Homo sapiens: one gene and its partner. Changing the gene in region 1 together with any one later gene gives a genetic interaction. Each region holds a gene or a part of one and is shown in the gene's direction. Other genes may lie near its edges.

The links.
Region 2: changes in SSU72 (region 1) and RIT1 together harm fitness more than expected from each alone (negative genetic interaction), as found in Homo sapiens cells (one large-scale study listed by BioGRID).

The regions. Positions count from the first base shown.
Region 1 is NC_000001.11:1,557,592-1,561,609, reverse strand, and holds part of SSU72 (RNA polymerase II subunit A C-terminal domain phosphatase SSU72), read left to right. Parts: intron 1-4,018. UniProt on the Homo sapiens protein: Protein phosphatase that catalyzes the dephosphorylation of the C-terminal domain of RNA polymerase II. Plays a role in RNA processing and termination. Plays a role in pre-mRNA polyadenylation via its interaction with SYMPK.
Region 2 is NC_000001.11:155,901,350-155,904,849, reverse strand, and holds part of RIT1 (GTP-binding protein Rit1), read left to right. Parts: intron 1-45; coding exon 46-119; intron 120-347; coding exon 348-539; intron 540-3,500.

The DNA.
Region 1 (4,018 bases):
GGTCGGGAGGACCCCGATAACGTTTCCTGGTTAGTGATGGGTGCAGGGGGGCCGCGGGAAGTGACTGTTACAAGTGAGAGCCCGAAAGCAAATCTGCCCCACAGCAGCCGGTGCGTTGGCAGAAGTCATCGCCGTAAACTGCAGTGGAAGCAAGACGGGGTTCAAGATGCGGCCCAAAGATAAGACGCAGCACTTGGTCGAGTGTTCACAGCGTCAAGACAAAGGACGGGCCGGCGCGGTGACTCAGGCCTGTAATCCCAGCACTTTGGGAGGCCGAGGTGGGTGGATCATGAGGTCAGAAGTTAGAGACCAGCCTGGCCAACATAGTGAAACCCCATTTCTACTAAAAATACAAAAATTAGCCGGGCATGGTGGTGCACGCCTGTAGTCCCAGCTACTTGGGAGGCTGAGGCAGGAGAGTTGCTTGAACCTGGGAGGCAGAGCCTGCAGTGAGCCGAGATCGCGCTACGGCACTCCAGCCTGGGTGACAGAGTGAGACTCTGTCTCAAAAAAATAAAAAAGGAAGGACAGTGTGACTTGGGAGGAAAATGCTGCTTGTTCAGAGGCAGGGCCGGGGTCGAGGGGGACCCCACCACTGCCATCTGCCTACTTGCCATGTGGCCAGGGCTTAGGTTTCTCTGTGCATGCCCACCTCGCAGAATTTCTGATAATTAAATAAATTAGGACATGCACACACTGAGCCCGAGACAGTGTTTTAAAGCCTTCAATAAATTTTGGCCAGTTGTCCTATTAGTATTGAAATACTTAATTTATTATTATTATTTTTTTAGATATGGGTCTTGCTGTGTTATCCAGGTTTGTCTCGAACTCCTGGCCTCAAGTGATCCTCACATGTTGGCCTTCCAGAGTACTTGGATTAGAGGCGTGAGCCACTATTCTCAGCTTTCATTTCTTAAATACAAAATCTCCTTGACTTTCTGTGAGGTTGCCTGCTGGTAACCCCATGCTAAAGTGAAAAAATCCTGCATTGAGCCATAATAAGTTAGAGACTGTATTTGGCTCTAGATGGCTGATTTTGGTCTTTTCCCCCACAAGCCAGAAGTGAGCCTGAGGGGTTGAGGGACTTGCTGCCTGTGCCTCTGAAACCTCCCTTGGGGATTGTCAGGGTACGAGTCTAGGTTTGCAGCACTGGGATGCGAGCCTTCGGTAAAGTTAGACGAGCCACGCCTGCAGTTCCAGCCTGGGGAGACCGAGGCAGGAGGCTCAGTTGAGCCCAGGAGCCGGAGGCCAGCCTGGGCAGCATAGCAAGCCTCTATCTCTACAAAAAACACACAGATGTGGTGGGTGTGGTGGCACAGCTACTCGGGAAGCTGAGGCAGGAGGCTTCACTGAGCTGTGATTGCGCCATTGTGCTCCAGCCTGAGGAAGAGAACAAGACTCTTGTTAAAAAAGTTTCATCCACATTTTCTTTTGGGAATTAATAGTATACATACATGGGGCTGGATGCAGTGGCTCACACCTGTAATCCCAATACTGGGAGACCGAGGCAGGTGGATCACCCGAGTTGAGTTTGAGACCAACCTGGCCAACAGGGTAAAACCCTGTCTCTACTAAAAGTACAAAACGCTAGGCATGGTGGCACATGCCTGTAATCCCAGCACTTTGGGAGGCCGAGGTGGGCGGATCACCCAAGGTCGAGAGTTTGGGAGCAGCCTGACCAAAATGGAGAAACCCCCGTCTCTACTAAAAATAAAAAATTAGCCGGCCATCGTGGTGCATGCCTGATCCTAGCTACTCATGAGGCTGAGGCAGGAGAATCACTTGAACCTGGGAGATGGAGGTTGCCGTGAGCCGAAGTTGCACCATTGCACTCCAGCCTGGGCAACCAGAATGAAACTGTCTCCAAAAATAAAATACAAAAAGTAGCTGGGTGTGGTGGCGTGTGCCTGTAATCCCAGCTGCTCAGGTGGCTGAGGCGGGAGGGTCACTTGAACCCAGGAGGCAGAGGCTGCAGCGAGCTGAGATTGTGCTGTTGGACTCCAGCCAGGGTAGTAATAATAGTAGTAGTGTATATACCTGGACCAGGGACGGGGATCTAAGCTCCCCTGACCTTTGTAGACAAATGGGAACTCTACTGTGTAGGTTCTTTCCTTGGGTGGACTGACCGTTTTATCAAGAATTGTTTTTATTGAGATAAAATGTACAAATCATGCACTTCCCTGAGTCGCGTGTCCAGTTCTGTGGGTTTCAGGACATTCATGGAGTTGCAGCCGTCACCACAATTGGTTTTGAGACGCTTTTCGTCTCCCAAGGCCGTTTGCTGCTGCCCATTCTCCTCCCAGTGCCTGTAGCAGCTTCCCGTGCTACAGGTCCGCCCGTTCCACACCGTCCAGTTTAGCTGCTTCCCGTGCTACAGGTCTGCTCATTCCACACTGTCCAGTTCATATGCAGCCTTTTGTTCTTTCGCTGAGCATGCGTGGAACTATTTCTAAGTCCCAGGTTTCTTTGCCATGACTTTTCCTCGCTCAGCCTCAGTGGCACGTGGAGTAGAGCAGCTTTGCGCTGGGTGTCCTGCCGAGGGGCTTGAGCCTGGCTCCCAGGGTCACGTGCAGAGGCTTCTCTATTTTTTTTCATTTTACACTGAAGCCACTTTCCATAGTTGAGCTTTCTTGCAGGATTTTTTCATTTTTGATTGAAAGGAGTCTGGTTAAGCCATCCCAAGCTTGCTTGGAGTGCCTTTGGGGAGAAGACAAGTGACTTCTGTTTCTAAGTTAGTGAATGGCCAGTCTGACCTAGTGAAGTGTCACTCAGCCCAGTGAGGGGGTCCAGGCAACAGCCGCTGGCCCAGAGGGTAGAGGAGGAGGGAGAGGCCGTTGTGAAAGGAGGGCTGGGGTGGCAGACACCGGCCTGGACAGTTCCCCCGCTCCAGGGAAGCCCATTCAGCCACATGAGAAGGTGTGTGGGAGTCTCACAGGATCCTACAGAAAGTTCATCCTGTGTACATGTAAGTTAGTGAAGGTTTACCAGCTTTTTGTGTTATGAACTGCAAAACCACTTGTCTTCAAAAGCAAGTAAACGTGTAGCTCTAAATGTTAATGTGACTGTTGTCCTGTGAAACGCAAGTGCATCTGACACTTTCCTGGGTCTCGTCTGGCCGTGCAGCTGGAGACCAAGCCTGTGTCTGGCATATACTGTTTGTACCTCTCTTGTGGATTTTTTTCTAATTACCTAATTTTTTCTAATGACGTTTGGGGTTTGGATTATTATTATTATTTGGTTTTGAGACAGGGCGTCTCTCTGTCGTGTGGGCTGCAATGCAGTGGTGCTGTCACAGCTCACTGCAGCCTGGGCATCCCAGACTCAGGTGGGTGATCCTGCCACGTCACCCTCCCCAGTAGCTGGGACCAGAGGCCTATGCCATGCCCAGCTTTTTTTTTTTTTTTTAATTGAGACAGAGTCTCACTCTGTTGCCCAGGCTGGAGTGCAATGGCACGATCTTGGCTCACTGCAACCTCCGACCCTGGGTTCAAGCGATTTTCCTGCCTCAGCCTCCCGAGTAGCTGGGATTTCAGGCATGTGCCACCACGCCTGGCTAATTTTTGTACTTTTAGTAGAGATGGGGTTTCACCATGTTGGCCAGGCTGGTCCTGACCTCATGTGATGAGCCCGCCTTGGCCTCCCAAAGCTCTGGGATTATAGGGGTTGCCACTGCACCTGGCCTGTGTTTTAAATTGCACATTTGTTCATGTCCGTCCTCTGAATTCATTGTCTTTTAGGTTAACTTCTGTGTGTGGCCACTTCCCTGTGGACATTTCCTTGTCTCAGAGTAAAATGTGGTAGACTTCTTTTTTGAGATGGAGTCTCAGTCTGTCACCCCTGCTGGAGTGCAATGGCGTGATCTCGGCTCACTGCAATCTTTGCCTCCCGGGTTCAAGCGATTCTCCTGCCTCAGCATCCTGAGTAGCTGGGATTACAGGTGCGGCGTACCACCACGCCTGGCTAATTTTGGTATTTTTAGTAGAGATGGGGTTTCACCACGTTGGCCAGACATGTCTCA
Region 2 (3,500 bases), about 150 Mb from region 1:
TCCGGCATTTATGACTTTATAGTACACCTTTCTTCCCTCCTGTAGAAGATGCTTATAAGATCAGGATCCGTATTGATGATGAGCCTGCCAATCTGGACATTTTGGATACAGCTGGACAGGTATTAAATCCCAGAATGTTATGAGTAAAGGCTTTTTTACTCTAGCAAAGGGGAGGGGAAGGCCTACACAGAGAAGATCAATAGTTTATCTCTCTTAATTTTTCATGCACTCTGACTCAGGATAGCAGGTAATCGACATGCGTTTTCTTTAATCTGAAAGAAATAGCTAATTGTGTGTGTAGTTGGGCTAGATTGCGTCAATACATAATGACCCTTGTTTCCCTCTAGGCAGAGTTTACAGCCATGCGGGACCAGTATATGAGGGCAGGAGAAGGGTTTATCATCTGTTACTCTATCACGGATCGTCGAAGTTTCCATGAAGTTCGTGAGTTTAAACAGCTTATTTATCGAGTCCGACGTACTGACGATACACCTGTGGTTCTTGTGGGAAACAAGTCAGACCTCAAACAGCTAAGACAGGTGAGGATAGAGAAGAAAATACTGTCTATAATCTTATACAATTAGTCATTTTTGTTTCTTGGCTTACAGATTCTTGGCTTGGCTTACAGATTTTTTTGCCTTAAAATAGAAAATCAGGCTGGGTGAGGTGGCTCACACCAGTACTTTGCGGGGCCAAGGTGGGCAGGTTGCTTAAGGTCAGGAGTTTGAGACCAGCCTGAGCAACATGGCGAAACCCCATCTCTACAAAAAATACAAAAAAACATAGCTGGGCATAGTGGTGCATGCACATGTGGTCCCAGCTAGTTGGGAGGCTGAGGTGGGAGGATCCCTTGACCTGGGGAGGTGGAGGTTGCAGTGAGGTTGGGGCTACAGCTTACTGCAGCCTCTACCTCCCCAGCTCAAGCAATCATCCCAGTTCAGCTTTGAGGGTAGCTGGGACCACAGGCGTGTGCCACCACTCCCAGCTAATTGTTTTTACTTTTTGTGGAGACAGGATCTCACTATGTTGCCCAGGCTGATCTTGAACACCTGGACTCAAGTGATCCTCCTGCCTTGGCCTCCCAAAGTGTTGGGATTACAAGTGTGAGCCACAGCGCCTGGCTGGAAGTAGTTTGATAGTAGTCAAATTCATAATGCTTCTCTGTTAATCTCCATTGGAAAAAATTTATAGGGATTTATATATAACATGTTCATTGCAAGACTATTTATGGTAGAAGAAAATGAGAAACAATCTAGCTGTCCAAAAGTAGAAATTATGGCATATCCATAATTAGATGTATCAATTATGGGCTCCTAATAGTTTTCAATATTTTAGTGTAAGCATATATCTCTTTCCCTCCCTTTGTGTTTCTTTCTTTTTTTTTTTTTTTTTTTTTTGAGACAGAGTCTCACTCTGTTGCCTTGGCTGGAGTGCAGTGGCACAATCTCGGCTCACTGCAACCTCCTCCTCCTGGGTTCAAGTGAGTCTCCTGCCTTAGCCTCCTGAGTAGCTGGGATTACAGGCGCATGCCACCACGCCCGGCTAATTTTTTTTTGAGACGGAGTCTTGTCTGTCGCCCAGGCTGGCGTGCAGTGGCACGATCTCTGCTCACTGCAAGCTCTGCCTCCCAGGTTCATGCCATTCTTCTGCCTCAGCCTCCCGAGTAGCTGGGACTACAGGTGTCCGCCACCATGCCTGGCTAATTTTTTGTATTTTTAGTGAGATGGGGTTTCACCGTGTTAGCCAGGATGGTCTCGATCTCCTGACCTCGTGATCAGCCTGCCTCGGCCTCCCAAAGTGCTGGGATTACAGGCATGAGCCACCGCGCCCGGCCTAATTTTTGTATTTTTAAGTAGAGACGGGGTTTCACCATGTTGGTCAGGCTGGTCTCAAACTCCTGACCTCATGATCTTCCCACCTCGGCCTCCCAAAGTGCTGGGATTACAGGCGTGAGCCACCGCGCCCAGCTTTCTTTTTTTTTAATTTTTATTTTAATTTTGTTGTTTTGAGACAGAGTCTCACTCTGTTGCCCAGGCTGGAGTGCAGTGGCGCAATCTAGGCTCACTGCAACCTCTCTGACTCCTGAGTTCAAGCGATTCTCCTGCCTCAGCCTCCTGAGTAGCTAGGATTACATGTGCCTGCCACCACATCCAGCTAATTTTTGTATTTTAGTAGAGACGGGGTTTCACCATGTTGGCCGGGCTGGTCTTGAAGTCCTGACATCAGGTGATCCACCTACCTTGGCCTCCCAAAGTGCTGGGATTATAGATGTGAGCCACCACACCCAGCGTTTTTTTGTTTTGTGTTGTTTTTTAGACAGAGTTTCACTCTTATCACCCAGGCTGGAGTGCAGTGGCATGATGTTGGCTCACTGCAACCTCTGCCTCCTGGGTTCAAGCAATTCTCCTGCCTCAGCCTCCCAAGTAGCTGGGATTACAGGCGCCTGCCACCATGCCCAGCTAATTTTTCTTTTCTTTTTTTTTTTTTTGATATAAAAGCATTTTTAAACTTTATTATTAATACTCAGGACATTAGGAATTTCCAGATTTTTTTCAGTAGCATTTGTAGAACCACTTTTGGTAACAAATACAGTAGTTAGGAATATGCATCCAGTTCAGAATGCATAATAATGTTTCTCCTGAATCCTTTCCGGCTAAAAACAGGGCTGGCACTGTGATGAGATATAGAACGAGAATCTACAAAAAACACTGTAACATGTTTGTTTTTTCCCAGAGGCTACATCCTCTTTTGCTGGAATACTTTATAAATACATATTAAAAAGTAAGGCAACAACTCCAAACAGTCCAAGCTGTTTGCTCAACTCTTTTCCCAATTAGATTTGCAATCCCGGTGATCAGTTTCATGGTTGTATTGTTTAGTGTTTCTTTCTTATTTTAGTAGAGATGGGGTTTCACCGTGTTGGCCATGCTGGTCTTGAACTCCTGACCTCAGGTGATCTGCCTGCCTGCTTCAGCCTCCCAAAGTGCTGGGATTACAGGCATGAGCCACCGCACCCAACTTTTTTTTTTCTTGAGACAGGGTCTTGCTCTGTCACTGAGGCTGGAGTGCAGTGGCGCAAACATGGCTTACCGCAGCCTTGACCTCCTGGGCTCAAGTGATCCTCTTACCTTAGCCTCCTGAGTAGCTGGGACCACAGGTGTATACCACCACATCCAACTAATTTTTTTTTCTTTTTTTGAGACAGAGTCTGGCTCTGTCACCCAGGCTGGAGTGTGACACCTGGAGTGCAGTGCCGCGATCTTGGCTCACTGTAACCTCCGCCTCCCAGGTTTAAGCGATTCTCCTGCCTCAGCCTCACGAGTAACTGGGATTACAGGTGCCCAACACCATGCCCAGCTAGTTTTTTTTAAGTGGAGACAGGGTTTTGCCATGTTGACCAGGTTGGTCTCGAACCCCAGACCTCAAGTGATCCACCTGCCTCAGCCTCCCAAAGTGTTGGGATTACAGGCGTGAGCCACCGCTCCTGGCCCCAGCTAAAT